Linked DNA regions of Homo sapiens. The protein of the gene in region 1 purifies or fractionates together with the protein of each later gene. This does not show direct contact. Each region holds a gene or a part of one and is shown on either strand. Other genes may lie near its edges.

Region 1 (3,832 bases):
CCATCTCTACTAAAAATACAGAAAAATTAGCGGGGCTTGGTGGCGGGCGCCTGTAGTCCCAGCTACTCGGGAGGCTGAGGCAGGAGAATGGCGTGAACCTGGGGGGCGGAGCTTGCAGTGAGCTGAGATGGCGCCACTGCGCTCCAACCTGGGTGATAGAGCGAGACTCTGCCTCAAAAAAAAAAAATAAAATAAAATAAAATATTACCATTATTTAATGTACTTTTTAAAAAAGCAAGATAATCTAATTAAAAGTAGTCCCTGTTATACATGAGGGGTTTTTATGGTTAACATCTTAAAAGTTACTTAGATTTTTTGATTTTTTTTTTTTTTTGAGACTGAGCTTGCTCTGTCACCCAGGCTGGAGTGCAGTGGCATGACATTGGCTCACTGCAACCTCCACCCTCCAGATTCAAGCAATTCTCCTGTCTCAGCCTCCTGAGTAGCTGAGATTACAGGCGCTTGCCACTACACCCAGCTAATGTTTGTATTTTTTTTTAGTGGAAACAGGGTTTCGTCATGTTGGCCAGGCTGGTCTTGAACTCCTAACCTCAGGTAATCTGCCATCCTCAGCCTCCCAAAGTGCTGGGATTACAGGCAAGAGCCAACGCACTTGGCCCACGTTAGTTTTTTTTTTTTTTTTTTTTTTGAGATATGGTCTCACTCTGTCACCTAGGCTGGAGTGCAGTGGTATGATCAAAGCTAACTGCAGCCTCAGCTTCCCCAGGCTCAAGTGATTCTCCCACCTCAGCCTCCTGAGTAGCTGGGACTATAGGCATGCACCACCATGCTTGGTAATTTATTTATTTTATTTATTTATTCATTTATTTATTTTTTGGAGATGGAGTCCCTCTCTGTCGCCCAGGCTGAAGTGCAATGGCGCGATCTCAGCTCACTGCACCCTCCACGTCCCAGATTCAAGCGATTCTCCTGCCTCAGCCTTCTGAGTAGCTGGGATTACAGGCGTCTGCCACCACAACTAGCTAATTTTTGTATTTTTAGTAGAGATGGCATTTCACCATGTTGGCCAGGCTGGTCTTGAACTCCTGACCTCAGGTAATCCACCTGCCTCGGCCTCCCAAAGTGCTGGGATTACAGGCCTGAGCCACCGCACCTGGCTGCCTGGCTAATTTTTGTATTCTTTATAGAGATGGGTTTTCGCCATGTTGCCCAGGCTGGTTTCAAACTCCTGGCCTCAAGGGATCTGCCCACCTCGGCCTCCCAAAGTGCTAAGATTATGGTATGAGCCATTGCACCCAGCCAAAAGTTAGTTTTTTTTTAAAGCCAAGCCATGCGCCTGTAGTCTTAGCTACTTGGAAGGTTGAGATGGGAGAATCACTTGAGCTCAGAAGTTAAAGGCTAGCCTAGACAACATAAAGAAACCCTTGTCTCCAAAAATAAAACAATGAAATAAATGTTAATTTTTTAAAAAATATTGAACATCGGCTGGGTATGCCTGTAATCCCAGCACTTTGGAAGTCTAAGATAGGAGGATCACTTGAGGCTAGGAGTTCAAGACCAGCCTAGGCAACATAGTAAGACGCCATCTCTGCAAAAAAAATGTAAGAAAACTAGCCGGGCACAGTGGTACGCACCTGTAGTCCCAGCTACTGGGGAGGCTGAGGCAGGAGGATCACTTAAGCCTGGGAGGTCAAGGCTGCATTGAGCCATGATAGCACCACTGCACTCCAACCTGGGTGACAGGGTGAGACTCTGTCTCAAAAAAAAAAAATGTATGTATATATGTCCTATGTCTTCCTTTATTTATACTACTATATATATGTATATGCACACGCATACACACACACACACACACTGAAAGAAAATGATGAGAATATAGTTAGGTTTTAGGAGAGCAAGAGGAGGTAGGGGACTGTCTGTGATATTTTTTCTCAATATAGTAAGAGAAGAAAGAATATTTATTATGGACCAAATATACGTCTGGGTCATCTATTTCTGATCTAGTTAGTCTACTGGAGAAGAGGATGCTGTATCTGAAGCAAGATAAGTTAATGAAAAGAAAATTAGTTTTAATGTATTTCATAGTAAGTATTTTAGAAGAAAATATAATAAATGAAGGAAAGCATAAGTGGACTCATCATCTTAGTTGCAGAACATTTCTAGAAATGACATCTAAGATTAGGCCACTAAAGGAAGCATTCTTTTCACTTTGTATTTCAGTCTCTCTGGGGTCATTGGTGGAAAATGGCAAAGCAGTCTGTGAAGCAGAAAGTGCGTGTATTTGTTGAGCAGTGTCTTGTGGGTAGAACACTGAAATGCTGAGGGGTGAAAAGGAAAACTGGCTTTCAGGGAGAGAGGGAAAAATGGACTGCTCGTCACTCTTTTCTGATCTTCTTAATGAATGACCCCTCTCCTCTACTTGTTATTTGATAATGACTACTCAAAATTTCATTGTTCCCTTCTTTTTAGCTAGAATGGGTACTAGGAAAAAAGTTCATGCATTTGTCCGTGTCAAACCCACCGATGACTTTGCTCATGAAATGATCAGATACGGAGATGACAAAAGAGTAAGTGCGATGTGTTTGCCTTCAACTGACTGGGCCTCTCTGTCCCACCTTGCTATAGTGTGACCGTATTTCCAAGCAACCTTTGAAGGACCAAGACAGAATTGGACAGGATCCAATGGACTCTAGAGCCCATCAAATCCAAACCACCCCCTCACACACTGCTAATGAAGAAATTAATAAAATCCCATCGTTAATTGTCTTTTAATAATTTTACCTTTAATAAATTAATAAGTTTACCTTTACCCTCGTATCTGACACAGAAGAATTGACATTTGTTCACATTCATAAAGCTTTCTAATGATTGATCTGTCATTGTATAATCGCCCATGGGGTGCAGTAAGAATATCTTGAGTTCATTACTGTTTAGCTTATCAAAACAGCTGGAGAAATACTTATCAAGAGAAGTGGAAAGATATATCCGTCCCTATATCCTCACCCTGAGAATGCTTCTGAAGGCTTAGGACAGTGTAAGAGTGTTAGATATTTTCATTCAGCAAACAATTATGGGCCTACTCTGGGCAGCATTGAGACATTCTTCAAAGGAAAAATTCAAGGGCAAACTGCCCAAGCCTCGCAGGTCCTAGCGGTCAGAAAAGAGCTCACATGCAGCCCTATCAAATGTGTCCTGCTGGACATGGTTTTCAGCGAACACAGAAGCACAGAGCATTTAATGTGTGAGTGGACCAAGTCTTTCTTTCTTTCTTTTCTTTTTTTTTTTTTTTTTTTGAGACAGAGTCCCACTCTGTTGCCCAGGCTGGAGTACAGTGGCACAATCTTGGCTCACTGCAACCTCCGCCTCCCAGGTTCAAGCGATCGTCCTGCCTCAGCCCTGCTAGTAGCTGGGATTACAGGCACGTGCCACCATGCCTGGCTAATTTTTGTATTTTTAGTAGAGACGGGGTTTTGCCATGTTGGCCAGGCTGGTCTGGAACTCCTGACCTCAGGTGATCTACCTGCCACGGCCTCCCAAAGTGCTGGGATTACAGGCGTGAGCCACCATGCCCGGCCAAGTCTGTCTTTCTTCATCTTAATTTTTCTCTCTGTAGCCAGGTATAGCTCCTGCATTAGGGCAGTCAGTGTAAGATTTCAGCAAGAGTCTTTACATCAGAAGTTCTCATCAAGAAGATTGGAATCTACCACTGACCTTACCCAGTATGTCCCTAAGCCAGCTGCTACTACAATGGCTTACTATGAAGGGGCATGCATCTAAAAATCTGCTGATGACACCCTCAATTTACTCTTAATTCCTATGTCTGAGAAGTCCATAGCCTTCTCTGTGGCTTTCATTTCATCATCACTCACTT
Region 2 (3,166 bases), on another chromosome or scaffold:
ATAAAGCAAAGTATGGATGTCATTAAGTCACAGAAATATGTTTTGAAGTTAATCAGGAGCTAAAATTATAAGCTGCATAGCAAGGTCCTGTTAGAAAGGAAACAGACAAAAGGAGAATGCTGGCAAAGTGAGATGGAGTCTGAGCCGCCAGGCATCCGAGCCTGATTGAGGCCATGGAGGTGGGTCATGGCACCTTGCCCAAGCACTTCTGCTCTAATGACATGAGTACATGAAGTTCTTTGTGAAAAATAGGGCCGATTGTATTTAACTTAATAACTTGAATTATATTCTTTGTGTATAACTTTTCAGAGAAGGCAGTTTTGCTTTGGGGACTGAAAAGCCCGAGTTGTAGTTTCAATGTCAATTTATTTCATCAACACTAGAAACTAATATATTAACTAAAATAAAGATGCCAAAAAATGTATTTCACGTTACAATGTATCTTTAGCACTTTCTTAGGAATGAGTAGATTCATGACACAAGATTATCTGATCTAGTAATATATTCTATTCCTATATTTAATGTGTTTTAGAGGCAACTACCATTTAAGGATAATAAAGTTGTTTCTTTTGGCTCCTTAAATAGCTTATGGCTTTTATTTTGGAAGAACATAATTACACTCATGTGTATCAGCCAGTGAATGTGTAAAAATAATTTTATACACTTTGGAAGAAGACAGTCGTCTGTATCTGTTTCTTTTAAATTATACAGCATCAGAATTTCTCTTGGTACAAAAAAGAAATTAACCACCAAGGAGTGCCTTAATGTCCACAGTGAGCCCTTGGTAATGAGTTAGGGTTTTTGTTGATATGTCCAAAATACTTTTTAAGTATGTTTCATTGTAAATTAATCAGAATAAAATTTTTCTTGCTATTCACCTGCCAGTATATATTTCTGTGATCACTGCCACTGCATATACAGTATCTGGTTAGTTTGATCTTTCAACGTCTCTTTTACTTTTCTTTCTGTCCTGACATCCTTTTTAATTTTTTTCTCCATGATTTTTCATGCTGTACAGAATGCACTCATGAATTGCATTTCAGGAATATTTAATACCATAATAGCAAGTTTTGTTGACAAACATTCAAATTGGTTTCAGCTCTAGAAATTCAATACTTAAATTAGAAGGAGACACATGTTCCTCAGAACATAATAGCTATATTCCTTTTATAGCTCTCCGTTTCATTAGGCAGCATGAGCATCTGAGAACCTCAGTATTAAAGCAGTAGGACCTGTATAAATTATATGTAAATATGATAATTAAGCATTTCTTTCCGATGGTATAGATCCGTTGAAGAATGTTTTTTTTCTTAGAAACAATCTATGTGTTTTAGGATTCACATGATCTTGAATTTTTTAAAAATCACCTGGCCAGCTAGCAATTAAATATCGTTTACAAATTTACTTTCACATTAATCAGTAAGCAGATATTCCTTCTCATTTCTAGCAAAATAAAATTACATGTCAAGTTTCATCTGAAACTATGTAATACCTTATTTGCTAGCCTCTAAAAATTGTTTTCATTCCACATAAGAATTTGCTAAGACTGTTGCTTGACCTTGGTGGCTTTATTTTGTTCAACAGGTCATGTACGTAGAAGGGACTGCAGTTGTGATGGGTTTTGAAGATCCCATGCTACAGACAGATGACACTCCTATTAAACGCTGTCTGCAAACCAAATGGCCATACATTGAGTTACTCTGGACCACAGATCGCTCTCCTTCACTAAATTAATTTGTCTAAGTATTTATAAGGAAGATCTTAATAACAGATGTTGAAAGAAGGAGTCAAGACTGGCAATTGGCTGGATTAAGCTAAACACTGGTATCACTGATTAACTGTAAATAACAATTAAAAACACATTTTCAGTGTTTATGATATGTTTAAATTATTTGTCCTAAAGCTTTATGTTAAAGATTATCCTATTTTACCCCTTCGTGTGAAATTTACTAGCAAAATTAAGCTTTCATCAAAGTTCATCACTTTTGCATTCAGATACTTGGTCATTTACTTACCAAATTACAAACGCAATACTACAGCATTTGTATATTAAGTATCACAGTTACTATTGATAAACTACTTTTGGGTTTTATTTCATTGAGGCACTTTTTTTATTGTTTGAATGATTCCGGCTTGTAATATATCAGCCTCTACAATGAAATGCAGAAGAGTTCATTTTTCTAAGATCTGTTTTTCATTAGAAATATTGACAAATAACACATTGTCAACCTGGATCCTTTGACAATTTACTTAACTCTGGCATGTTCACAAAAAGTAGAAACTCTAAGAGACCATTACCATTTATTCACAGATGTATAGGGGATGTATTCTAAAAACTGACAGAAAAGAGAATCTGATAGTCAACACTGTTAACTTTTACTGTGTAATTGCCAAATACACTTTTCCAAATTTGTCCCAACAGCCCTGTAAGCCAGCTTTCTTCTATATTTATAAACACGATAAATGCATGAGAAGATCTGTTATTACATTAGTATATTACGTTATTTATTATGATCCTAGTTGATGGCCTAAATAAACACCTTTTTCTTTAACTGTACCCTTGCATTTTTTACATTGGTGGCTCAAAATAAACAAATACGTACTTCTAAATGTTTCTACCCAATAACCCTGAGAGCACAGAGTACTACAAATGGCTAAGTCATACAGGACCTCGAATAAGAGACCAGGCCTTATGCTAACCTAAGAGCTCTGCTAACTCAGCCAGCCAGAAGCATGAGAACCCACATGGCAGCTTTCTAGACCAGTGAGCAAAGATGCAGAAGCCCGTTTACTTGAGAGAGAGATCTGCTGTATTCTGATAGGTTTGTGGCCCAGCAATTTAAAATCACATAGCCATTAATACTTTTTTTCCTCCACGTGTAAAGCCACGTGTAAAGCAGATAATTATGTAGTATCCTCTTACACATTTCAGAACTGAACATTACCTTCAATAGTATAGTTCCTGTGTGAATTTCTGTTTGGGTTTTGTTTTCTTTCGTACACACACACAATTACAATATAATTAAGCATAGGGAAAGGCATGAGATTTTGTGTATAACTTTTGGTGACATTCTGTTCAGGAGTATGATACTACTTATTAAACTTACAGCTTTCAAATGTCAATATTTTGGTCTAGGCTACTTCCAAATCTGTATAAAATATATAA

What was found.
Region 2: the proteins of KIF9 (region 1) and MINDY3 purify together in Homo sapiens (affinity purification with mass spectrometry; one large-scale study listed by BioGRID and IntAct). This does not show direct contact.

Annotation. Positions count from the first base shown.
Region 1 is NC_000003.12:47,275,978-47,279,809, reverse strand, and holds part of KIF9 (kinesin-like protein KIF9), read left to right. Parts: intron 1-2,430; coding exon of another isoform or gene 2,431-2,435; coding exon 2,436-2,528; intron 2,529-3,832. UniProt on the Homo sapiens protein: Essential for normal male fertility and for progressive motility of spermatozoa.
Region 2 is NC_000010.11:15,777,560-15,780,725, reverse strand, and holds the end of MINDY3 (ubiquitin carboxyl-terminal hydrolase MINDY-3), read left to right. Parts: exon of another isoform or gene 1-877; intron 878-1,584; coding exon 1,585-1,734; 3' UTR 1,735-2,552; downstream 2,553-3,166. UniProt on the Homo sapiens protein: Hydrolase that can remove 'Lys-48'-linked conjugated ubiquitin from proteins.